Regions from separate parts of the Homo sapiens genome. Here regions 1 and 2 are each linked to region 3. Evidence: fine-mapped expression QTL. A gene starts in region 3. Each other region holds a variant in brackets. All regions are shown on one strand. Distances are between the middles of the regions. Region 1 overlaps IL17RA (interleukin 17 receptor A). Region 2 overlaps ADA2 (adenosine deaminase 2). Region 3 holds the start of TMEM121B (transmembrane protein 121B).

Region 1 (5,000 bases), 24 kb after region 3:
AACGCCACTGAAGAGAAGGGAGGAAGGGAAGGTGGATGGATTACACACACCTCTGTCACCCATCTATGCCCAAAGACCCCCGTTCCCACCCACTCCCGAATATTCAGCCAAAAATAAGAACAAAGCAACAACCACAGCAAAATCCAAGGTCAGGGAAATCAGTATCTTTGTTTTTTGTTTCCTCTGGTCCTTTCTGCCTGTTTTTTTTTTTTTTTTTTTTAAACCTGGATCTGGCCTCATCAGTAGACAGTGAATAAGGCAAAAGAATTTGGGGAAAGTGGAAGTAGTCCCACCCCTCCCACCTGCCCTCTCAAATTCTAGGACAATGGGTATGAGAGGGCGGAGCCAGGGGACTTGGGGCTATGGAGATCTGGCACACGCCAGGCAGGTAAAAACTATTTGTCAAATGATTCTTCCTCCTCAAACGGAAAAGCCAGGAACCTCTTGAGACCATTATGGAGTAAAAAGGTGCAAAGGACAAGCTAGAGACCCCCACTCACCCTGGGCCAGCAGGCACCTCAGTTGCAATGATATTTGAATTTGTGCTAAGTTATTTTCTGGGTGTTAGAGATTACAGACATCGACTCCAACCCCCATTCTAGTTACCCTGGTGGAGGGGCCGGGGTCCTTTGCTTCTAAGTGGACGGAGGAACCTGGTTCTCACCATTCGCATAGCAGTCAAGTTTGGGGGTCCTAATTTAACATCGGAGAGGGGTTCTGCCTTTGCTGCTTGAGTTTGTGGGAGATCTAACTTGTTTTCAAGTGACCATTTGCAGATTTAAACCAGTAGTCTTCAAACTAAGGCTCGCATCGTGATGACTTAAGGGTTAAGCACCAGTTGCTGGACCCCACCCTAAGAGTTTCTGGCCTGGGAAGTCTGGGGTGGGGCCAAACATCTCTACCACGTTCCCAGGTGAGGCTGAGGCTGCTGGTCTACGGACCACACTTTGAGACCCACTGCTTTAAACAAACTTAAACAAGAATCAACATTTCACCATTTAGCTGTGAGCAGCAAAATGAGACTAAGCTGTTGTAGTGCTCATTTGCCCACCTACAGCAGTTCTTTGGTCTGGGCGGTTTTTTCTTCCTGAAGGTAGGCCCCAGCTGAATCCAAGTTACACATAAAAGATGTTACACAAAGTTACACAAAGATGGCAGGAGGTAGGGCTGTGGAAGCTGCCTTCCAATTCAACTTCCTTTCCGAACGAATAGCTAGGTAAAGTGGGAAGAAAAACCAGGGGTGAGCAGGTGAGGGACGCTTTCAAAAATACGCTCTGTCCCTCACTATTGCTCACGGCGGCCACACCACTTCTCTTTTGACTTCTGCCCATCTCAGGCTGCCATTCTGAATTCCACAGACTCCCTCAGCACCTCTGGGTCTCCCCCACTCTAAATCAGGGTCTGAATTTGGGGACAAGAAGTCTGTACTGGTGTCATCAGTGGAACATAATCCACTCAGGAGCTGTGTTCTTACCCGCCTGTGGTGATGCCTCAGTTTGGACAGAAACTCAAACCTGACGCACAAACGTTCATTGGTGTTCAGCTGCAGGACAGATAACTCTGCACCCTCGAGGTACAGGATGCTGGCTGCAGGAGAGGGAGAAGAGAAGACAAACAGATGCAGATCAGCCAAGACAAGTGCTGGGTGTGTCACTTCCCTATCTGTTGCGGTTGTTCACTCCTAAAAGAAAATCTGCCGTCTTACCCAACTCTCCACATCCTGTTCCTTTCAGTTCACTCTCTGGCCTCAGCCTACCGCCTTGCAGACAGTTATTTCCCAGCTGGGCAAGGAAAAATGACACTTTACACTGGGCTAGAAGTAAAGGCTTTGCAAACTTGTGGTGAGGGCTTTGACAATCTGGCATGGGTGTCAAACACAGCCATCCCCACCATCCTCACGAGGTTGTGGCTGTCAGCAGGAGCACTGAGGGCGGGGACTTCCAAAAAGAACTTCCCCCATGCCCCGTTCACAAATCTGGGGCTAGTGCTCATAAGCCCCAATCGTCCCAATTCTGTAACATAAACTCTCCATTCCTGAATAGGCTTGGGGGACGTTTTAAAAGTGCTGGCCCCTAAATTCAGGGAACAGGTTGACAAATGTGTTACCATTTTCCACTTCATTTTTGGTACTGTAGTCACAAAATTAACTGCTTGCTTTTTTTTCCCCTCAGGGTGCTAAAAATATTAGGTTGAAGGAAGTCCTTTCATGAAGAATGGTGTGATGAGAAGGTATCACTG[T/G]GGGTTAATATCTAAAATGCTGAACAAGTATTTGACTGCATGAAATGACGGATCCTTATAGCACTAAATTTGAACCCCCATGTCTGAGCACAGGACTGGGAGCCCAATCCTGAGCCTGACTGGGAGAGCCACTTGGAGGCAGGGAGAATCCCCCAGGGCCCTGCTGGCATGCCCACTCACCGTCTGTCTGCAGTGTCCATTCGATGTGAGCCACGGGGAACAGGTCTCCTTGTTGGGTGTGGGCAAAGTGCAGCTGGATCTGCAGGTCCTTTGGGGAGGAGGGGGTCAGGTTTCGAGGGTGAATCCAGCTGTCATCCAGGCAGGTACCTGGCAGCCAGGGAAAAGCAACATTCAGAGACTTATAGCCGAGACCCTGAGATGCCCCAGCAGCAGGTACAGACAGCTAGACAGCAAACAGCTCAGGGGCCCGCGGCCTTCCAGCCTGTGGCCCTTGGCCGCGTCCTCAGCTTTACTGCCCTGCTCCCTCTTCTCTAATGTTTACTGGGGTCACTGCAAACCTCTCAAGTCTAAAGGGAATTTTAGGAGAGAAGACAAAGTACACAAGTTGATTTTGAGAAGAAGTTGTGATTGGGAATAAGGGCACAGGAGGGATGCAGTTGTAGTAAGAGCTGCTTTATTGTTATATGTCAGGGGTCTCTAATTGGCTCAGACACTTGAATATGTGCCTCTTTGAATTAAAACAAAACAAAATCAACAGCACAGATGTCTCTCACTTTACAGTGACAAGCTGTGGCAAATCAAATTATATTATAGATACAGTAGGGCAGCTCCCCAGAGAATACTTTCACAATCCAAATGACAGTTCTGTTTCTCCTTTCCTGACTTTTGCATAATGAATGTTCTCGACAGGAAGCGCAGGTGCACGCATCCACAATTCTCCGGGAACCCTCCTGCGGATGGCTGTAGCTCACAGCCTGAACCTGGAGTGGCATGGCAAGACTTCTGTCAGAAGTTGGCAGCAGGCTCTCACTTGATTAAGAAGGCAACAAGAAGAAGAACAGAAAAAGATGACTTACTATTCTTGACCGTGCAGTTTAGCCCCTGTGGAAAAAAGAGGGTGGTTATTACAGCTGGGAAAAGGCTTGAATTCACATGCCAGGGCCAGATGCTCTCCACTGGCTCATTCTCAGGAATGCCATCTACACAGCCTGCCCTTCTCACTTTTTGGGGAATAGGATGAGGAGTGAGTCCAGGGGATGGCAAAGGGAATGGTGCTTTTTTTTTTTTTTTTTTGAGATGGAGTCTTGCTCTGTCGCCCAGGCTGGAGTGCAGTGGCGCGATCTCAGCTCACTGCAAGCTCCGCCTCCCGGGTTCACGCCATTCTCCTGCCTCGGCCTCCCAGGTAGCTGGGACTACAGGCGCCCGCCACCACGCCCGGCTACTTTTTTGTGTTTTTAGTAGAGACGGGATTTCACTGTGTTAGCCAGGATGATCTCGATCTCCTGACCTCGTGATCCGCCTGCCTCGGCCTCCCAAAGTGCTGGGATTACAAGCGTGAGCCACCGCGCCCGGCACAGGAATGGTATTTTATGAGGAACTGCTATGAGCTGGGACCTTGACAATTTTAAAAGACACTGAGAGGGTTCTCTTGGAGTGCCCTGAGAAAAGGGCCCCTTCATCTCCTAAGGTTTCCAACCTTCCTGGATAACACTGCTGCAAGAGGTGCGGAAGGGGTGAAGGGCAATATTTACAGTTTCTGTGACAGATCTGTTGGGGAACATTCACTAAGTCCCTACAAAGTCGCTAGGTAAAGTATGCCAGGCCCTGTTCCGGGTGATCGTGACGAGGTATTATCCTCAGCCCATTCTGCAGATGAGGAAGCTGAGGCACCCATGTTACATTATATTGCCTCCCTCTTGGGCAGTATGTGTTAACCTTCCAAGCCTGAGGAAATCCTGATGGCCAAATTTAGAAGCCCTAGTGACAAATGCTACCAGGGAAATGTAACCATTAGGAAGGAGCTCAGGCTCAGGTGTCTCCAGTTCTCTAACTGGCAAAACAGACCAAACGCATCCCGGGGTGGAAAGTCAGATGCTGAGGCAGACCAGAAACACAATCTCAAGGCCAACAAAGTGACTGGTGTGAGTAGGGTGCCAGGGCTGACACCCTCCTCTCTCTTGAGAGGGAACAGAGAGGTAGGGCTAAGCACAGGAGAAGACCCCGTGCCACCAGGGTTCATTTACAGAGTGGTCACACACAGGATGACATCTGCACGCACCTAGGATTGACTCTAGCAAGCTATTTCACCTGGACCCTCCTTCTCTGGGACCCCAGTTCATAAGTGCTTCTCGCCCTGTTCAGCTCCTGAATTCTCCCCTACAGGTCCCGGGCTAGCATCACCACCCCACTAGGGGGCTCCGCACATGTTCCCAACAAAATCCATCTGGCTGCCTAGGCTCACACTAATAAATGTCACTCTTTCCTAAATGGCGAGAAGATTAACTCCCCTGAGTCCTCTCATTTTTCCTCTCCCTTAAAATTCCTAGGATGTGGAGGATAAAAAAAAAGCGGTTATTTCACCTTGAGATGGGGAACTCTTCTAGAGAAGGCAAACAGATACATCATTTGGAGTAACTTCCTACTAGCCACTGGGAGCTACTCAATAACACTGCAGGATGATGCCCATGATGAAAAGCTCTTGTCTTCATGAAGACCACAAGGAAAGTGGAAGGGTCTGACAACACACTTGGTTGATTCCCAGTGGTGCAGGCAGGTGTCCTCTCATTCCCGAGATGGAGGGA
Region 2 (10,811 bases), 59 kb before region 3:
CGATCTTGGCTCACTGCAACCTCTGCCTCCCGGGTTCAAGTGATTCTTCTGCCTCAGCCTCTGGAGAAGCTGGGATTACGGGCATGCACCACCATGCCTAGCTAATTTTTGTATTTTTAGTAGAGATGGGGTTTCACCATGTTGGTTAGGCTGGTCTTGAACTCCTGACCTCAAGTGATCCACCCACCTCAGCCTCCCAAAATGCTGGGATTACAGGCTTGAGCCACGGAAAAAAATTCTTTTGAGACAGAGTCTTACTGTATCGCCCAGGCTGGAGTGCAGTGGTGCGATCTCGGCTCACTGCAACCTCTGGCTGCCAGGTTCAAGTGATTCTCGTGCCTCAGCCTCCCGAGTAGCTGGGATTACAGGCGCCCACCAACACACCCGGCTAATTTTTGTATTTTTAATAGGGATAGGGTTTCACCATGTTGGCCCAGGCTGGTCTTGAACTCCCAACCTCAAACAATCCACCCGCCTTGGCCTCCCAAAGTGCTGGGATTACCCGGCCTCATGTGATATTTTGATGCCTGTATATAATGTGTATGAATTGGAACACTTTCTGACGCTCTCCATCCTCCGAGTGAATTGTGCTTGAGAGGTTAACTGATCTGCCTAAAGCCACACAGCTGGAAATTGGCAGAAGAGGGAGGAGAACCAGGTCTGCTCCTTGTCTTTAGGATGTTCTGTCCCGCATTATCGTAGGAGAGGAAACCCTGCCCTGCCCCATGCAGGCCCTGGCTGCTGTTCCTCCTGAAACGCCATCAGCCCAGCCACATCTTTCTTTCCCAGAACTCCATCCTTGGGCTCGCTCAGTCATCTCAGCCCCTCCCGTATTCCAGTCCTTAAAATGTGTAAACCCTAACTAAGAAAGATCACGGCTGCAATTTCAGATCCAAAGGAAGATTTGGGAGGAGGCTGTTCACATGGAGGCCGGGACCAGGAGGGCAGCTCTCTTCAGCATCCCACCTGTCACCCTCGGAAGACCAAAGAGGGGTGGAGAGAGTGGTGGGCAATTTCATTTCCCACCCAGGCTTAAGCTCTGCTCTATCACACCTTCTCTCAGAGAAAGGGACCTTGTGCATTAATCTCTTTTTCCTGACATTTCGAGTCAATTTAGATCCAATTTAGATCAAAGTCTGCTCTAGGAGAGCAGAAGAATTGTTTGAGGGGGAGGGGGTTGGGCGAGGGTGTTGTTAACCTTGAAGAGCTTGTGGTCTGGTTGGGGAAAATCATACTTATGTGTGTGAAATAATTCTGGCCCTACAAAACATTGCAGCTCAGGACCTAACAGGTTCCAAGATGTATGGTCCTTGGAGATGATTTTGCCAGGACTTGGGTATCTAATACCTAAAAGTAATGTCCTTATTTTTATTTTTTTATTTTATTTTATTTTATTTTATTTTATTTTTTGAGACGGAGTCTCGCTCTGTCCCCAGGCTGGAGTGCAGTGGCACGATCTCAACTCACTGCAAGCTCCGCCTCCCAGGTTCACGCCATTCTCCTGCCTCAGCCTCCCGAGTAGCTGGGACTACTCGGGCGCCTGCCACCACGCCCGGCTAATATTTTTTGTATTTTTAGTAGAGACGGGGTTTCACCATGTTGGTCATGCTGGTCCGGAACTCCTAACCTCGTGATCCGCCCACCTCGGCCTCCCAAAGTGGTGGGATTACAGGTGTGAGCCACCACACCCGGCCAATATCCTTATTTTTAAAAAGAAAAAGAAATCTTTAAAAACCAGTGAAAATCCACCAAAACACATGTGCTACATAGCAATGGAAATTCTTGAGTTTTATTTCTATCAGGAAAGTGGAGTTTTCATATATATATATATATATATATATTTTGACATGGGCACTCTGTCACCCAGGCTAGAGTGCGGTGGTGTGATGACAGCTCACTACAGCCTCCACCTCTGTCACCCAGGCTAGAGTGTGGTGGCGTGATCACAGCTCACTACAGCCTCCACCTCCTGGGTTCAGGTTATCCTTCCACCTCAGCCTCCTAAGTAGCTGGGACTGCAGCCACATGCCACCATGCCTGGCTAATTTTTGTATTTTTTGTAGAGACAGGGTGTCTCTATGTTGCCCATGGCTGGCCTTGAACTCCTGGGCTCAAGCAATCCTCCTGCCTCAGCCTCCCAAAGTGCTGCGATTACAGGTGTGAGCCACCGCACCCAGCCAGATGTTCATATTTTATATGTGAATCCATTAGAATGCTTATGGCTGCAAGAATAGAGTACATGCATCCCACCGATTTTACAATAAGGACATTTGTTATCTCACGTAAGAAGCAATCTGTGCTATGCCCATTGTGTGGGTGATTCTGCCCCACTTGGTTGTCGGATGGTGAATCACATTTGGGGTGACCACATCCAGTGAAGCAAAATAGGAGACAGCCTCCCAGTGGATCCCCTTTTATCAGGGAGGAATCCCCCAAAGCTCCCCAACAAATAACCTCCCAGTCCAGCGTTAAGGCTATTTTAGCTGTAAGGGAGACTGAGAAAGGCACATCTGACCTTTCATCCTCTACCGAGGGCCCTAGCTGCAAGAAAGGTGTGATGGGGCCGGGCGTGGTGGCTCACGCCTGTAATCCCAGCACTTTGGGAGGCTGAGGCAGGTGGATCACAAGGTCAGGTGATCGAGACCATCCTGGCTAACACAGTGAAACCCTGTCTCTACTAAAAATACAAAAAAAAAAATCAGCTGGGTGTGGTGGCGGGCGCCTGTAGTCCCAGCTACTTGGGAGGCTGAGGCAGGAGAATGGCATGAACCCCGGGAAGTGGAGCTTGCAGTGAGCCGAGACTGCACCACTGCACTCCAGCCTGGGTGACAGAGCGAGACTCCATCTCAAAAAAAAAAAAAAAAAAAAAGAAAGGTGTGATGGGGATGGCAGGGGAGAAGGGAGGCCACAAGACTGTCTGCGGTCATCTAGCGAGTGATAACATCTTGACAGTACTATTAAATATATAAATTAAAGTGAGCACATACAGGTAGTTATACTGATGTTGTCAATAAGAGAACCTGTAACATATTGTTGTAAAGATCATAAGCATAAGAGTCCCAGAGCCCGGTGCGGTGGCTCATGCCTATAATCACAGCACTTTGGGAGGCCTAGGCGGGTGGATCCCCTGAGGTCAGGAGTTTGAGACCGGCCTGGCCGACATGGTGAAACCCCGTCTCTACTAAAAATACAAAAAATAGCCGGGCATGGTGGTGGGCACCTGTAATCCCAGCTACTCAGGAGGCTGAGGCAGGAGAATCCGCTTGAACCCGGGAGGCGGAGGTTGCAGTGAGCCAAGATTACGCCACTGCATTCCAGCCTGGGCGACAGAGCAAGACTCCGTCTCAAAAAAAAAAAAAAAAAAAAAAGAGTGCCACAAAAGAGGAAGAAGGAAAGCGGACTGTGGGGTCAGAGAGACGAAGGTTTAAAACTCAGTTTTGCAGGCCAGGTGCGGCGGCTCACGCCTGTAATCCCAGCACTTTGGGAGGCTGAGGCAGGTGGATCACGAGGTCAAGAAATCAAGACCATCCTGGCCAACATGGTGAAACCCTGTCTCTACTAAAAATACAAAAAATTATCTGGGCGTGGTGGCGTGTGCCCGTAGTCCCAGCTACTCAGGAGGCTGAGGCAGGAAAATTGTTTGAACCTGGGAGGTGGAGGTTGCAGTGAGCTGAGATCGTGCCACTGTACTCCAGCCTGGCGACAGAGCAAGACTGTGTCTCAAAAAACAACAACAACAACAACAAAAAACTCGGTTTTGCTACTTACTGTGTGAACATCCTTGGTCAATTTATAGAAGCTATTAAGTTTCAACTTTCTCATTAGAATGATAAATTAATAAATTAGATGATTAATTTAATAAAGCCATATCATACCTCTCTTTAGCATTGTTAAAAGGAAACTGTGTGTGTGTATTTGTGTTAATGTTAATTTCTCTTCATTTTTGTGCTTGGGGGGCTGTTTATTTGAGGATGGTCGGGGGGCGGGTGGGTCAGACCCATCCATCCCCCATGGAAGACCAGACCCATCCATCCCCCATGGAAGACCATTCCCGTGTGTTCAGACTGGCAGGGTACTTCCATAGACAGGAACATTCTGGATGCTCTGATGCTGAACACTACCAGAATCGGCCATGGATTTGCTTTGAGCAAACACCCCGCAGTCAGGACTTACTCCTGGAAAAAGGACATCCCCATAGAAGTCTGTCCCATCTCTAACCAGGTATGTGTGACCCATGTGGCTAATCCCATATGATCTCCCCTAACCACAACCTCTGCTCTCTTAAACTTTTTGCTGTATAACTTATCTCTCCTTAACTCTCTTGTTACCTACATCCCTCCACTCTCCTACCCCTGTTAGTAAAGTTATTCAGGAGGGGCCTTTTGCCTAAGCCACCAATAAGAATGAGGCAGCAGTGAGGGTCCCCAGTGGGGTGGAATTTTGGGCAAGACTGTAGACAAAGCAAAAAGGACATGGGGGGAGGCCAGTGAAGTGGGACGGACCATGGGATGCTGCTCCCCATGGTTTCTTGGGGTCCTTTGTGTCTGTGTTCAGTTAGCGCTTCTCTGAGCAGGAACAGAAGTGACC[C/A]GATGTTTGCAGTGCTGATGAAACATGAGGAGGAGCATAAGGACTGGCTCTGTTCCTTATGTCTCCTTGTGACTCTGCCCAGAAGTCATCCCCATACTGGGGAGATAGTGATGGGAAGATGAAGGGAGCTGATGGGGCTCAAGGTCTCACCTCACTTGTGACTACTCTTTTTAGGGATCAGAGTTCATCTTTCTCCCTTCCCTCCTATTGCGCAGGTGCTGAAACTGGTGTCTGACTTGAGGAACCACCCTGTAGCCACTCTGATGGCCACTGGGCACCCCATGGTGATCAGCTCTGATGACCCAGCTATGTTTGGTGCCAAAGGCTTGTCCTATGATTTCTATGAGGTCTTCATGGGCATTGGGGGGATGAAGGCTGACCTGAGGACCCTCAAACAGCTGGCCATGAACTCTATCAAGTGAGTGTCCTGTGTCCTCCCAGGTCCCCCGCCTCCTTCCAGCCCGCAGCTTGTGTTTGCCTCTCTGGAGGCTTGAGGCAGATGCCTCGATGGTTCCTGTGGGTTCCTTCTCATCATGGCTGTTTAGTCCTTGCTGCTGGCCTGGGGAGAGTGCTCTGCAAGGCTCTAATGTCCTCTCAGGCTCCCTGCCCCGTTCCCCAACCCCTGCCCTGAGGCTGACCTGGGCTCCTCCTCTTCCTGCAGGTACAGTACCCTGTTGGAGAGTGAGAAAAATACTTTCATGGAAATCTGGAAGAAGAGATGGGATAAGTTCATAGCAGATGTGGCTACAAAGTGAGGAGAAGCTAGCCAGCCCTCTACAAGCTGTCTTCTTGCACACGCTGTCACTTCCTCTCACTCGTTCTTGAATCAGCTCCATGTGCCCATGAAATCAATGGCCTCTGTATGGAGCGACCCTGTGAGAAGCACTTGGCTGGCTGAGCAAATTCATCCTCTGGAAATATTCTCTCTCAGCCACAGTGACATTGACCCTCTTGGTTTTCTCCTGTCTCTGGCCATTTCTTCCAGTTTCCCTATTTCAGAGTCTTCTCCTCTCTCTGATCTCTGTGCTGTTTCCTCAGGACTCAGTCCTGGGCTCTCTTCTATTCTGGTCTCTTTATTTTTTTATTTTTGTATTTTTTCGAGATGGAGTTTTGCTCTTGTTGCCCAGGCTGGAGTACAATGGTGCGATCTCAGCTCAGTGCAACCTCCGCCACCCGGGTTCAGGCAATTCTCTTGCATCAGCCTCGCGAGTAGTTGGAATTATAGGCATGTGCCACCACACCCAGCTGATTTTTGCATTTTTAGTAGAGACAGGTTTTCACCATGTTGGCGAGGCTGGTATCCAACTCTTGACCTCAGGTGATCCACTCGCCCCTTGGCTCCCAAAGTGCTGGAATTACAGGCATTAGCCACCATGCCTGGCCTATTCTGGTCTCTTTAACTCTCTCCTCTTTATTTCTCTTCTCTCTCTGTACACTTTTCCTGGGTGGTCTCATCCATTCCTTTGCTTTTTCATACCATTTATTTGTTAATGATTCCCACATTTATTTATGCACTTGGAGAGCTCACAGGAATCTCAGAAACTGATGAGGTACAATTCTGAACCCTCAGTCTCTTCCCTTTAAACCTTTCTTTTTCTCTACTTTAATTTTTCTAAAGAGTGTCTTGCTATGTTGCCCAGGCTGGTCTCCAACTCAAGTGATCCTCCTGCCGCAGTCTCCCGAAGTGCTGGGATTACTGACATGAGCCACCACACTCAGCCCTTTAAACCTTTCCCTGGCCTTTCCCATAGCTGGTGAAGGACACCTCCATCCATTCCACGCAGTTGCTCAAAGCAGAAATTTTCAGTGCAAGTCTTGATGCTGCGCCGTCCCCCACTCCCTACATCAGAACGCATCCCTCATCTGGACTCCAGCGGTGGCTTCTTGATGCTGCGCGGTCCCCCACTCCCTACATCAGAATGCATCCCGCATCCAGACTCCAGCGGTGGTGCTCTACCTGCACGCTGTTGCCAAGTCCAAGCTACCATACTCCTGCCTGAGCTATGACAACAGCCTCCTCACTGATCTCCCCTTTCTTCCCTTTGCCTCCTCCAGCTCATTTTTCACAGTGTAGAATGACATTTTGTTTGTTTGTTTTGTTTTGTTTGAGATGGAGTCTCGCTCTGTTGCCCAGGGTGGAGTGCAGCGGTGCGATCTCGGCTCACTGCAACCTCCACCTCCCGGGTTCAAGCGGATTCTCGTGCCTCAGCCTCCTGAGTAGCTGGGATTACAGGCATGCACCACCATGCCCGGATAATTTTTGTATTTTTAGTAGAGATGGGGTTTCACTATGTTGGCCAGGCTGGTCTCGAACACCTGACCTCGTGGTCCACCCGCCTCGGCCTCCCAAAGCACTGGGATTACAGGCGTGAGCCACCCGGCCTGGCCTAGAATGACTTTTAAAAGATCAAATTAAATCAGGTCACTCCTTTGCTTACAACGCAGTGCGTTTAGAGGTACACCCCATGTCTCCACAGGGCATACAGCATCCGATTTAATCTGGATCCATTCCGGCGCCTTCCTCTCCCAGTCACCCAGAGGGCCCCAACCCCGGCGGCCCTTTCTTCCTCAAATGTCCTCGGCTCTATACCGTGCCTGGGTCTTTTCTCTTTCTCTCTGCCTGGAAGATTCCTTCTTTCCCCTTTTGTCTTGCCCACTCCTGTTTACCCTTCAAGTTTCAAGTTCATGTCACTGTCTCAGAGAGGTTTTCCTGTGCTCGCCCTGTTTCTCTCAGGAAGCCTTGCTCTTTTCCATCATGCCTCTAATCACAGCTTATAATCGGATATTTATTTCTGTGTCTACAGTCTTGCCCTGCCAGACTGTATGCCCCATGTGGGCAGGCGCTCATGATTGTTTCTGATTGTTTCACGCATGCTGCTAACCCAGAGCCTGGGCCCAAAGCTAGTTAGTACTCAATAAACAATGCATTGAATGAGTGGCTGTCACTGTGTCTGTTCAGCCAGCTGCCAAGGCAGAGGGGAGTAGAGCAGAGCCGCCCCAAATAAAAGACCTCATGTGATCAGAGTCCAGCTCCTCACCTGGCCTTGGAAGAAGGATGCAAGAAGCCACCTCTGTCCTCACCCAACTCAAGGATGGCAGGGAATCAAAGAATTCCTCAAAAGCCCCAGGCGAATGTCCTCTCATCCATCTTCCATGACCTGTACCTGAGCTCTCAGACAGCAGCAAGCCCTCTCTCCATTCCTAGTTTATCACCATTTGGTTCCTGGAACTGGGAAAAAACAGCAACCATAAGCTGTGCCTGGATGGAAGAAGACAACCTCTAGGGTCCTGTCTAACTCTGCAGGTGATTCAGTGCCTTACCCAATCCCTGAAGATCTTTTAGGTCCCAACTGCGCAGGGGACCTCCAACACAGGCAGACGCAAACAGCCTCTGGCCTGGACTTGCTGTGATCTCTGATTTGGCAAAATGAACCAGCAATAGTCTTGCCTTTGTGCTTTGTGTCCAGTTCTTCCTTCTTTTTTTTTTTTTTTTTTTTTTTTTGAGACAGAGTGTCTGTTGCCCAGGCTGGAGGGCAGTGGCGCGACCTTGGCTAACTGCAACCTCTGCCTCCCGGGTTCAAGCAATTCTTCTGCCTCAGCCTCTCGAGTAGCTGGGTTTACAGGCACCTGCCATCACGCCTGGCTAATTTTTGTATTTTTAGTAGAGACGGGGTTTCACTGTGTTGGCTAGGCTGGTCTTGAACTCCTGACCTCATGATCTGCCCGCCTCGGCCTCCCAAAGTGCTGGGATTACAGGTGTGAGCTGCCACACCCGGCCTTTTTTTTTTTTTTTTTTTTTTTTGGAGACAGTGTCTCACTATGTTGCTCAGGCTGATCAACTGATCTCAAACTATGGCCTCAAGTTATCCTCCTGCCTCAGCCTCCTGGATACCTGGGATTACAGGCACTAGCCACCACATCCAGTCTTTAAGCTTTTAAATTCAACTTACAAAGCTTGTTAGTTCTTCCTTCTTGACTTTATTCCTCATTGCATAGGCCTAGTCCTATTGAACTAAATGTCCATGGAGCATTTATCTGATCATTTTGAAATAATTTCAAAAAGTTGCAAGAATAGTACAAAAAACTCTTACCAGGCCAGGCACAGGGGGTCACGCCTGTCATCCCAGCACTTTGAGAGGCCGAGGCGAGTGGATTGCTTGAGCCCAGGAGTTTGAGACCAGCTTGGGCAACATGGCCAGACCTCATCTCTACTAAAAATACAAAAATTAGCTGGGCATGGTGGGGTGTGCCTGTGGTCCTAGCTATTCAGAAGGCTGAGGTGGGAGGATTGCTTGAGCCCAGGAAGAGGAGGTTGTAGTGAACTGAGATCACACCACTCCACTCCAGCCTGGCCAATAAAGCGAGACCCTGTCTCAAAAAAACAAACAAAAATAACAACAACAACAACACAAACCTCTAACATTCTCTTTGCCCAGGTTCCCCCAGTTATTAACATTTTACAACATTTGATTCCATATATCATTCTTTCTCTGTTTCTAATTGCTCTCTCTATATATCCTATTTTTTTTAACCACTCGAGACTAAGTTGCAGATATTATGCCTTTTATTCCTAGATTCTCCAGTGCACATTTCCTAAAGACAGTGACATTCTCCTATGGAGCCACAGTACATCCAATCAAATCAGAAAAGTATTAACATTGAAAAGACGCTAGTATCTGGCTCTGGCCCTGCTGAGCTTTGTTTTGTTTTGTTCTTGGTCCAGAACCCAATCCAGGATCACAAGTTACATTTAGCTGTCAACTCTCTAGTCTCTTTCAGTCTGAAATAGCTTCTTAGTCTTCCTTTGTGTTTTGGAACCTCATTTTTGAAGAGTACAGGCCAGTTACTTCATAGACTATCCCTCATTTCAGGTTCATCTAATGTTTCCCTAGGAAGAGGCTCAGGGGATACCTTTTTGAGAGGAGCACCTTGGCAGCGAGGCTTTGTCCTTCTCAGTGTACACACCAGGGGCACATGAATGGGGCCAAGTGTTATACTTCCAGCTTGTTGTTAAACCTTTAGGAGTCTGGAATTGGTCTTGATGGGAATTTTTTTTTTTTTTTTTTTGAGACAGGGGTCTCACTCCATTGCCTAGGCTAGAGTGCAGTGGCAGGATCGCTGTTCATTGTAGCCACTACCTCCTGGGCTCAAGCAATCCTCCTGCCCAGCATCCAAAGTAGTTGGGACTACAGGCGTGCACCGCCACCTCGGCTAAGTTTTCTTTCTTTTTACTTTTTGTAGAGATGGGATCATGCTATACTGTCTAGCCTGTCTCAAACTCCTGGCCTCAATCCATCCTCCCGCCTCGGCTTCCCAAAGTGCTGGGATTACAGGCATGAGCCACGACACCAGGCTTGTGGGAGTTTTTGTGCCACAAAAATCAGCAAATGTTACAAATCCATGTCCCCACCAGCCAGCTGTTACACATTTGCCAGCATACTGATGCATACAATGTTAATTTGTCTCAATATGATACTGACTTTGATCGCTTAAGTTGATTTCTGCCAGAATTTGCCATTGCGAAGTTACCATTTTTCCCTTAGTAATTAACACATATTTGGAGAGGAGACACTTTATGTAAAAGTCTTCACTCCTCCTTAAAACTTTACCCATTAGTGCTTGCATCCACTGAGGACTTTTGTCTAAATCTGCTATTACTATCATGGTTGCTGTTCCGTTTATTGCTGTGTAGCAAATTATCCCAAAACGTAGTGGTTTGAAACAAAAATAAAAATTTATGGGGCCAGGCGTGGTGGCTCACATCTTTAATCCCAGCACTTTGGGAGGCCGAGGCGGGCGGATCACCTGAGGTCAGAAGTTTGAGACCAGCCTGACCAACATGGGGAAACCCCGTCTCTACTAAAAATACAAGATTAGCCAGGCATGGTGGCGCACGCCTGTAATCCTAGCTACTTGGGAGGCTGAGGCAGGAGAATAGCTTGAACCCGGGAGGCGGAGGTTGCAGTGAGCCGAGATGGTGCCATTGCACTCCAGCCTGGACAACAAGAGTGAAACTCCATTTCAAAACCAAACCCAAAACAAACAAACAAATTTATGATCTCTCCCAGTGTCTGTGGGTCAGGGGTTTGGGCAGAGCCCAGCTGGACAGTTCTGCTCTGGGTCTCTCATGAGGTCCTTGTCACAGTGGAGGCAGAGCTGGAGCTGACGGGCCGCCAGGGGTCACCTCTCTGCACAGCCCCAGGGCTCAGCTGGTGCTCTCCTAT
Region 3 (10,811 bases):
TTTTGAGACAGGATCTCACTCTGTTGCCTAGGCTGGAAGTGGTGTGATCATGGATCACTGTAGCCTCAAACTGCTGGGCTCAAGAGGTCTTCACCTCAGCCTCCCAAGTAGCTGGGTCTACAGGCATGTACCATCATGCCTGGCTAATATTTTAATTTTTTATAGAGACAACGTCTTGCTATGTTACCCAGGCTGATCTCAAACTACTAGCCTCAAGTGACCCTCCTGCCTTAGCCTCCCAAAGTGCTGGAATGACAAGCCACTGTGCTCAGCCAATTTATTAAGTTGGATGTTTACCTTATTAAATGTTCAATTTTCTCCTTTGTAACACAAACATTTAAAGCTATAAATGTTCTTCTTCTGCTTTGGCTATGTCCCATCCATTTTGACAGGTGGTATTTTCATGTTCATTTAGTTCTAAATATTTTCTAATTTTTGGATGATTCATTTGGAAGTATGTCTTTACACTTCCAAATATGTGGGGGGTGGTTGGTCGTTGTTTTGTTATTTTATTCTAATCTAATTGTTGTGAGGTCAAAGGATTGGTCTGTACATGGTCAGGCTTTGTAAATGTTGCATGTAAAATTGTAAACAATGTGTAGTATCTAGTTTTGGAGGTACAGAGCTCTAAATTCAGCCATTTAGATCAAGCTTGTTAATGATATGGTTCAACTTGTATACATCTGTACCAATGTTTTATCTGTGTGAACTATCAATTACTGAGAGATGTGTTTATATTTCTTACTATCATTAGGTTATTTGCCAGTGTCTCATAAATATTACCCATTTTTATTTATATATTTTAGGGCAATGTTATTGAATACACACACATTCAGAACTATGGTCTTTCTGGAACTTGGTCCTTTTACAGCAGCAAATATGTATATAGCACTTTGTGCTGAGCACTTTCTATCTATTAATTCATTTACTCCTCATAACAACTCTGTGAAGTGGGTACTATTATTTTCCCCATTTTCTAGTGGGAAAATCAAGGAAAGAGAGATTAAGTAATTTGCCTAAGGTCACTCAGCTTCTAAATGGTGGAGTCAGCCAGGCGCGGTGGCTCATGCCTGTAATCCCCGCACTTTGGGAGGCCGAGGTGGGCAGATCACCTGAGGTCAGGAGTTCAAGAACAGCCTGGCCAACATGGTGAAACTCTGTCTCTACTAAAAATACAAAAAAAAATTAGCTGGGTGTGGTGACGGGCGCCTATAATCCCAGCTACTTGGGAGGCTGAGACAGGAGAATTGCTTGAACCTGGGAGGAAGAGGTTGCAGTGAGCCGAGATCGTGCCACTGCACTCGAGCCTGGGTGACAAAGTGAGGCTCCGTCTCCAAAAAATAAAAAAAATAAATAAAAATAAAATAAAACTAAATGGTGGAGTCAGGGTTTGAATCCAGGTAGTCTGGCTATAGAGTATGTGCCCTTCACTACTATGGTGTACTGTCTTCTATCATTACATAGTGAACTTCTTTATCCCTAAGAATATTCTTTGTCATATAGTTTATTTTTTTGGTATTAATATTGCCAAACCCACTTTTTAAAGTTGATATTTGCCTAGTTTAATTATATACATGCATTAAATTATATTTGTGTATTTTTTCTTCAGCCCTTTTTTACTTTGTTTGTCTTTATATTTTAGGGATGTTTCTCTTTTTCTTTTATTTATTTATTTTTGAGACAGGGTCTTGCTCTGTCACCCAGGCTGGGGTGCAATGGCGTGATCATAGCTCACTGCAACCTCCAACTCCTGGGCTCAAGGGATCCTCCCACTTCAGCCTTCTGACTAGCTGGGACTACAGGCATGTATCACTACACCTGGCTAATTAAAAACGATTTTTTGAAGGCCGGGCATGGTGGCTCACGCCTGTAATCCCAGCACTTTGGGAGGCCGAGGTGGGAGGATCACCTGAGGTCAGGAGTTCGAGATCAGCCTGACCAACATGGAGAAACCCCGTCTCTACTAAAATTACAAAATTAGCTGGGTGTGTTGGCGCATGCCTGTAATCCCAGCTACTCGGGAGGCTGAGGCAGAAGAATCGCTTGAACCTGGGAGGAGGAGGTTGTGGTGAGCTGAGATCTCACCATTGCCCTCCAGCCTGGGCAACGAGAGTGAAACTCCATTAAAAAAAACAAAAACAAAAACAAAACCTGCGTCCCTCAAAAAAAAAAATGGTTTTTTTTTTTTTTGGTAGAAATGGCATCTCATTTTGTTGCCCAGTCTGGGCTTGAGGGTTCCTTCTGCCTCAGTCTCCCAAAGTGCTAGGATTACAGGCGTGAACCACCATGCCAGGCCATGGGATATTTCTTATAAAAGCCTATAACTGGACATTTAAAAAAAATCCATCTGATCATGTGTCGTTTAATATGACATCTATTGTGATTACTGATTATTTAGCTTTATTTCTACCATCCACTGCATTCTGACTTCTGTTATTTCTGATGAGAAGTCTGCCATTAATCTAATTGTTGTTTGTTGTAAGTAATTTTTTTTTTACTGTTTGATTTCTCTTAAGATCTTTTTCTTGTCTAGAGTTCTACAATTTTACTTGAAAACATCTCGGAGCATGTTTATTTTTATTCATCCTGTTTAGGATTCATTGCAATTCCTAAATCTGTGGGTTGGAGAAGTTCTTTCACCAATTTTGGAAAATTCTCAGTTCAAATTTCTGTATTGTCCTTCCCTTATTGTTTTATATTCTCCTTCTGGAGCTTCTGTTAGACATATTTTGGATATTCCAATCTATCTCTCATGTCTCTTGTCTCCTAGATATTTTCAGTCTCTAGCTCTCTGTACTACATTCTAGAGAATGTCTTCATATATATTGTTAAATTTACTCACTTCAGTTGTGTCTAATTTGCTGTTGAGCTCATCCATTAATTTTTCAGTGACTATACAGCAGTCTCTCCCATTTGCAGTTTCACTTTTCATGGTTTCAGTTCCATGGTAAAGCACTGTCTGAAAATATTAAGATATTTTGAGATAGAGAGGCACCACATTCACATACACTTTTATTATAATATATTGTTATAATTGTTCTATTATTAGTTACTATTCTTAATCTCTTATGGTACCTAATTTATAAATTAAACTTTATCATAGGTATGTATAGGAAAATAAACATAGTATATGTATATCTTCAGTTTCAGGCATCCACTGGAGGTCTTGGAATGAATCCCTCATGGATAAAGGGAGGACTACTATATACTTGAAATCTAAAGGTTTCTTTTCTTTTCTTTGAGACAGGGTCTTGCTCTGTCACCCAAGCTGGAGTACAGTGGCATGATCATAGCTCATTGTAACTTCGAACTCCTGGCCTCAAATGACCCTCCCACTTTAGCCTCCTGGGTGGCTAGGAGTCACAGGCACATGCCACCACGTCTGGCTACTTAAAAAAAAAATTATTTTTATGGCCAGGTGTGGTGGCTCATGCCTGTAATCCCAGCACTTTGGGAGGCTGAGGCGTGCAGATCACCTGAGGTCGGGAGTTCGGGACCAGCCTGACCAACATGGAGAAACCCTGTCTCTACTAAAAATACAAAAATGAGCCAGGTGTGGTGGCGGGCGCCTGTATTCCCAGCTACTTGGGAGGCTGAGGCATGAGAATCGCTTGAACCCGGGAGGCGGAGGTTGCAGTGAGCCGAGATCGCACCACTGCACTACAGCCTGGGGGATAGAGCAAGATTCTGTCTTGAAAAAAAAAATTATTTTTAGAGATGAGGTCTTGCTATCTTGCCCAGGCTGATCTCAAATGTGCCCGGCCAGGTTTTTTGTTTGTTTGTTTATTTTTGGGCACCTCAGGTAGGACTGAAGTGTTTGTTTGTTTGCTTTCCCCCCAGACGGAGTATTGGTGAAACACCATATTGATCAGGCTGGTCTTGAACTCCTGACCTCACCCTGCCCCACATGGGTGGACCCTGGCCCCAACTGGCACCCTGAATGTCTCACACTGTGAGCCTGAGAAGACCGGCTCCAAGAATCAGTGCTCCTAACCATGGCAGCTTTGTTCCTGGGCACTTACCAAAGTGCAACGCTACTGGGGAGCAGAACTCAAGAGTCCAGGCAGAAAACAGCCATTGGTGGCCCCTGCTATGAGTCGATGTTCCCTGGGAGGCTAAGGCATGGGCTAATGGAATGATGATAACACAGAGACCTTTAACTGAGCATGGACTCTGAGCCAGGGACTGGCTCTGTCATCGAAGAGAGATTACACACATGATCTCTCTTCATACTCACAACAATCCCTTAAGGTAGGAGTGAGGTCCTTTTTTTTTTTTTTTTGAGATGGAGTTTTATTCTTGTTGCCCAGGCAGGAGTGCAATGGCACAATCTTGGCTCACTGCAACCTCTGCCTCCCGGGTTCAAGCGATTCTCCTGCCTCAGCCTCCCGAGTAGCTGGGATTACAGGTGCGTGCCACCACCCCTGGCTAATTTTCGTATTATTAGTAGAGGCGGAGTTTCACTGTGTTGGCCAGGCTGGTCTCAAACTCCTGACCTCAGGTGATCTGCCCGCCTCTGCCTCCCAAATTGCTGGGATTATCACCATGCCCGGCTAGTTTTGTACTTTTAGTGGAGATGGGGTTTCTCCATGTTGGTCAGGCTGGTCTCAAACTCCCGACCTCAGGTGATCCGCCCGCCTCGGCCTCCCAAAGTGCTGGGATTACAGGCGTGAGCCACCGCGCCCGGCTGGGGTGGGGTCCTGTTTACAGATCAACATTCTGAGGTGAAATATTCAGGCTAAGACCACAAAGGTGTTAAGTGGCACAGGTGGGATGGCGGCCCCAGAGCTCCTGCCCTCACCACCATGCCAGCTTTCCAAAAGTGGTGTGTGTGGGGGAGGTGGAGATGGTGCAGGTTCTAAATTGTATATTTACCAGGGATTGGCTGTGCAGACTGACCTCCACGGAACTGGAAAAGGCAGGTTTGGCTGAAACGGACTCTTATTTAAGAGGCAGATTTAGGGGCGAGGCCTGACTAACCCCTGCGGCTCCACTGCATACAGCTCCCTCACACTGCATGGTGTTATCACGCTGCAAGCTGTTACCTAGGGGAGATGAGCCCGCAGCAGCAGCTTCAAAGGTCATGAAATCAGGGAGCCCACAGGCCCCACAAGGGTGCAGAGGCCAATAGGGCAGGCAAGCTTTCTGCCTTGTTTTCATGGGGCTGGGAATGGGATGTTTCCATTATTGGTGAACCTCAGATTGTTTTTGAGCCCCAACTGCTCTAGTCATTTCCTTCTCCCTTAAACCCCTAAAGGCAGCACTCTACCTTCTGCCTTCCAGAGTTGCTGCATCGACATCCATCCCCAGCCTTGGATGAGTCCTGGGGTGAGCTGGTGTGCTCTCTCCTGAGACTGTCTACGCAGGGCCACTGACTGCATTCCTTCCTTGGTGTCTCTGTCTACTGTGGTGGGCTGTAACCCTCACCATCATCCCTTTGGAGCCTTTGTTTTCATCCAGGTGCCCACACCTCTAAATGCCCCTTTATTTTACTCTCTGCTAGACACATCTTCCTATTACGTCCCATTCTGCTTTAAAAACCTTTGAGAAGCCCGCTGGGCGGATGCCACTTGCCCAATCTCGTTCCCTCGTCTCTCCTCCCAGGCAGGTGTTTTCAGGGAACTTCTCCATCCGCTGGAATCGGGTCGTCCCTGAGATGGCTCGCGACCCCAGGGCTGGGTACATGGATATTTAGGACTATAGGTCTGGGGCTGCTGCCCGAGCCCTTTTTGCCAACATGGCCTGACTCCTCCACTGGTTTTTAGTGCCTTAGGGAGAGGCGGATGGCCCCATGGGAAGGGCGCTGGACGGAGGGTGGAGGCGAAGCTGCCCACTGCCTGCCTCAGAGCTGAGAAGGCCAGGTGCAAAGCCCGCCCTGTAGCTTGAGCCCATCGCTTGGGGGCACCGAAGCCATCTAGGTACTAACGCCCTGCGGTACAGCCGGTGGGATTCCCAGCGACTTCCTTAGGAGTCCGCGCTCCATGGGAGTCCCCCCGCACCGGGTCGCCTCGCCCTGGCGGCTGCCCGCGCCTCCTCCCGCTTCCTCCAGGCCACAGGGCTCCCGACCCGACTGTGACGCACTGCACCCCCGCCCCTTCTCTTCCCGTTGATCCAGCGCGCCGCGCTTTCTCCTCCTCTGGTCTCGCTGCTTCCTCTCCCCCTCGAATCCAGTCCTGGTTTCCCCGCCGCCAGCCTCCCTCCCTCCCGGCGGGACTCGCTCCCCGCCCCGCCCCGCCCCGCCCCCGCCTCGCCTGTCTTCACCGCGGTCCGCTCGGTTCACCGCCTGCCCCCTCTCCCTGCCGCCCGGCCCGGCTCGCCCAGTCCAGTGGCTCCAGTCCGGATCTCGCCGCCGCCCGGCCCAGGTGCGAGTCCCCACTGCTGGGGAGGCGGCGGGCCCCGGCTCCCCTCGGCCGCCTAGCCCGCCTCGCCCGCCCGGGGTTGGCGGGGAGGGAACAGCTGGGCGGCCCCAGAGCCCCTCGGAGGACAATGCGCCCGGCGCTCGGCCACCCTCGCTCGGTCTCCTCCGCGTCCGGTTCCTTCCCGCCGCCCCCGGCAGCCGCCCGGCTGCAGCCCCTCTTCCTCCGCGGGGGCTCCTTCCGCGGCCGGAGAGGCTCCGGCGACAGCAGCACCAGCACCAGCACCAGCCGCGGGGGAGGCGGCGGCAGACGCGGCGGGGGCGGCGGCTCCCCGAGCAGCAGCACGGGCGCCGAGCGCGAGGACGACGACGAGAGCCTCAGCGTCAGCAAGCCGCTGGTGCCCAACGCCGCGCTCCTGGGGCCGCCGGCTCAGGTGGGCGCCCCCGCCGGCCCCGCGCCTGTCGCCTTCTCCTCCTCAGCGGCCACCTCCTCCTCCACCTCCACGCCCACCTCCTCCTGCAGCATGACAGCCGCGGACTTCGGCGGGGGCGCCGCGGCCGGGGCCGTCGGGGGCCCCGGGAGCCGCTCGGCGGGGGGCGCGGGCGGCACCGGGACCGGCAGCGGCGCCTCCTGCTGCCCGTGTTGCTGCTGCTGCGGCTGCCCAGACCGCCCCGGCCGCAGAGGTCGGCGCCGCGGCTGCGCCCCCAGTCCCAGGTGCCGCTGGGGCTACCAGGCGCTGTCCGTGGTGCTGCTGCTGGCGCAGGGCGGCCTGCTGGACCTGTACCTCATCGCCGTCACCGACCTGTACTGGTGCTCCTGGATCGCCACTGACCTGGTGGTGGTGGTGGGCTGGGCCATCTTCTTCGCCAAGAACAGCCGGGGCCGTCGGGGCGGCGCAGCCAGCGGCGCGCACAACCACCACCTGCACCACCACCACGCCGCGCCGCCCCTGCATCTGCCCGCCCCCTCGGCCGCTACCGCTGGGGCCAAGGCACGCGGAGCCCGCGGGGGCGCCGGCGGCGCGGGGGGCGGCCTGGGGGCGGCCGCGGCAGCGGGCGAGTTCGCCTTCGCCTACCTGGCCTGGCTTATCTACTCCATCGCCTTCACTCCCAAGGTGGTGCTGATCCTGGGCACGTCCATCCTAGACCTCATCGAGCTACGCGCGCCCTTCGGCACCACGGGCTTCCGTCTCACCATGGCGCTGTCGGTGCCCCTGCTCTACAGCTTGGTGCGGGCCATCAGCGAGGCGGGCGCGCCCCCGGGATCGGCAGGACCCCTGCTGCTGCAGCCCCAGCGGCACCGCGCGGCCGGATGCTTCCTGGGCACGTGCTTGGACCTGCTCGACAGCTTCACGCTGGTGGAGCTGATGCTGGAGGGCCGCGTGCCGCTGCCCGCGCACCTGCGCTACCTGCTTATCGCCGTCTACTTCCTCACCCTCGCCTCGCCGGTGCTCTGGCTCTACGAGCTCAACGCCGCGGCCGCAGCGGCTGCATCCTGGGGCCAGGCCTCCGGGCCTGGCAGCTGCAGCCGCCTTCTGCGCCTGCTGGGCGGCTGCCTGGTGGACGTGCCCTTGCTGGCGCTGCGCTGCCTCCTGGTGGTCAGCTACCAGCAGCCCCTCTCCATCTTCATGCTCAAGAACCTCTTCTTCCTCGGCTGCCGGGGCCTGGAGGCCCTGGAGGGCTGCTGGGACCGGGGCAATCGGGCCTCCCCGAGTCGGGCCAGAGGGGGCTACGGTGCTCCGCCCTCCGCCCCTCCACCACCTCCGCCACCACCTCAGGGAGGCTCCCAGCTGGGCCACTGCATCTCGGAGAACGAGGGGGGTGCTCATGGCTATGTCAACACCCTGGCTGTGGCCTCTCAGAATTGAGGGTGAAGGGCACGGGTCCTTGTTTTTGGGTTGAGAGTCCCCAACCCCCTTGTCTTCTACCTTCTGTCACCTAGATTTGATCAGGGTCTATTTGGAAGAGGTAACCCTTTTCAGGGCTAAGGGCCAGGGTGTTCTTCTGCACCCTGGGGTGAGGACGGCTTGGAGGGAGACCAGCAGTTAACGGTGAGGGAGGTAGGTGCACTTACCCTCTCCTCTCTTCTCCTATCCTACCCCAATCCTGACCTCCAAGGGGCTGGTACCTCTGCTTCTTGCTTTGCCCACCTCCACTCTAATTCCCATCCATTAGGAGGAGAGGGGTGCTGGGCCTTGGACCTTCTCCCTTGCTTAGAAGTGCCAGCCTCTTTTAGGCTGTGGTTAGTGGCCATTGTCCCATGCCTTGAAATTGACCCAGAACCCACTTTCCACTGATGTGTCTCTTGGATTTCTTCCAGGTGATAGATACAAAGTGTATGTCTCTGTGTGTGTAGTGTTGTTTTCTCGTGTCCACCCTGTGGCCCTTTGCAATGGGTAGGAGATCTGGGGAGGCCCTGCCCCCTACACCATACTTATCACCACCCTCCTCTTTTCTGCCTGGATTTGTGACCATGAATTCCCAGGAAGAGCTGGGCCCCTGGGAGCTGCCCAGGTACTCCCCTTGAAGGGAGAATCTCACCCAGGATCTTCCTCAATACTGCTCCTCTCTTCTCAGCTCAGGGAGAGGAGGGGATCCATTCTCTAAGGACCAAACTGCACCCTTTCTTGGGTGAGTGAGCATTTCTACCTCCGTGCTTTCAACTTTTGTTGCATCATGCACTGATGCTGCTTGCAAAAAATGAAGACAAAATACTCAGAAGTTGCATTTGCCATGGCCACTGGCTCCAGCTGGGGTTTGGTGCCAGTGTTATTACAGGGTCTGCGGAGTATCAGCCATTGGCTTGGCCTCTCTCTGTTCCTCCCTCTGCACCTAGAACTCTTATCCTTCCTGTGGTTTGGTGCCGACTGGGTCGGATCTGGGCTTAGAGTAATAGCTTTGGTGGGTTTCCTGGATGGATGTGAAGTTGGGCCTCCCATGGGCCCAAGGGAGTAGGAAGCCCCATTCCCCACCTGTCCTTCCTCTAGGAAGTGTAGATCAGAAAGTGAGGTGGTGACCTCCCACCTCTGGTCTGGTTAAGAGTCTCACTAGGGCCAAGGCAGGCTGCAGAACTTTCCCTCTTCCTCTCATTGAGGGTGATGACAAGAGACATCCGGGGACTGTGCACTTACAGTCGGTGTGGAATGTCACTCTTGCAGTCTTTGAGGCAGGATAAGTATTTTTACATATTTTAAGGGTGCAGGAGGACAGCAGCTAACAAGGCCAGGAAATACTCACTTCCCTCCACCCTCAACAGGATGTGGTGGGGGTGAAACTTGAAGAATTTTTGTTTCCCCTTCTCCCTTCTTACGTTTGGGAAGTTTTATGTAGTGTAACAAACTCTAGACGAGTTACCAGAAGATGTGGATTCTAGTTCTGATTCTGTCACTCATTGGCTTTGAGTGACATATTTTTATTTCCTGGGCCTGTTTTCTCACATTAAAAAAGTAGAAGTTAGATGAGTGATCTCTAAGGTTGAAGGTAATTTCAGCTCTCACATTCTTTTGAGTTTGTGGCTCTTGAAAGCCCTGGTCCTGATGCTCCCTGTAAAGGTGGCTGGGAGAGAAGCCAGCCAGGCTGCACTTGCAGAACATTCCCTGCTCTGTACTGGGTGTGTGAAGCCCCAGCAGAGAAGGCCGGAGGGAGGGCTTGGGTGCCTGGGCTGGGTGTGGGGCAGGGCCTGGCACAGCTGCAGAGTGCACAGGGAGGGTCAGAAGTGCCAAGTCACTGGCCGTTAACTCAGCACCCAGGCCAAGCCCCCGCCTCCCACTTGAAGCCCCCTCTTACAACTGTTTTGGGGGCTTGGAGCAGAAGACACCCTTGTAGACAGACATAAGAGGGGCAGAAGGCTTGACCAGAGTTCTCTTGAGCCTCCTCATGCTCTCAGAGCAGGGAACAGCGGGGGAAAATGTTTACACTCCATGCACAATCTGTGCTTCCAGTCCCTCACCCTATGTGGCCCAATAGCTGGCTGGATTTCACACTTAATTGGTATTTTTTTCTGCCTTCTTCCCCTGCCCCCACTGACTCCTCTCCTCTCCCTTTGATTGTACTCAAGGTTCTGGGGCCTGGGCCCTGGGTGGGTACCAACAGCTGCTCGCTGTTCCCATGTCCTCTCTCCAGCTTTGCTGTGTTTCTCTGCTACCTAATCTCAGTGACTGTGAAAGGACATTGTGTCTGAGCCATGGCCAGCCGCTGGCTGGCCCCCTGATCTGCCCCCCTTCTATTGTTTGGATGGCCATCTCCTGCTGGGCCTCCCTGACTGTAAAATCTCTGTACTGTTTGTTAGGTTTTTGGTGGGAGGCTGTGATAAGTTCCAATGAGCTGCCACTTCCCTGGATATGTCAAGAAGCTGATGGCAACTTGGCCAATTCTGGCAGATATCAGGCCCCCAGTTCAGCCCCAGTCACCCTCTTTTACACATGTGGGTCAACCACTGTGTGCTCAGAGGGTCAGT

Evidence for each region. PIP is the estimated chance that this variant, and not a neighbour inherited with it, causes the effect. A credible set is the group of variants that fine-mapping cannot tell apart.
Region 1: its variant is the best candidate, but not a certain one, in a credible set for the expression of TMEM121B in whole blood (INTERVAL, PIP 0.79).
Region 2: its variant is the best candidate, but not a certain one, in a credible set for the expression of TMEM121B in cerebellar hemisphere (GTEx, PIP 0.88).

The regions. Positions count from the first base shown.
Region 1 is chr22:17,095,362-17,100,361 of GRCh38, reverse strand. It overlaps IL17RA (interleukin 17 receptor A), which reads right to left. Exons shown (of 13, transcript NM_014339.7): 2 at 3,276-3,300; 3 at 2,419-2,565; 4 at 1,475-1,587; 5 at 1-7. Among named protein-coding and RNA genes, the nearest start is that of IL17RA, 13 kb to the right of the region's middle. The variant T/G (reference allele first, on the strand shown) is at 2,239.
Region 2 is chr22:17,176,014-17,186,824 of GRCh38, reverse strand. It overlaps ADA2 (adenosine deaminase 2), which reads left to right. Exons shown (of 10, transcript NM_001282225.2): 8 at 4,064-4,221; 9 at 4,803-5,005; 10 at 5,249-8,035. The coding sequence ends at 5,342. Among named protein-coding and RNA genes, the nearest start is that of HDHD5-AS1, 22 kb to the right of the region's middle. The variant C/A (reference allele first, on the strand shown) is at 4,588.
Region 3 is chr22:17,116,803-17,127,613 of GRCh38, reverse strand. It overlaps TMEM121B (transmembrane protein 121B), which reads left to right and starts at 6,254. Exons shown (of 1, transcript NM_031890.4): 1 at 6,254-10,811. The coding sequence starts at 6,487. The coding sequence ends at 8,223. LINC01664 (long intergenic non-protein coding RNA 1664) reads right to left here and starts at 6,019. Exons shown (of 4, transcript NR_103793.1): 1 at 5,575-6,019; 2 at 2,843-2,959. RefSeq lists an enhancer at 5,296-5,827 and a silencer at 6,413-6,542.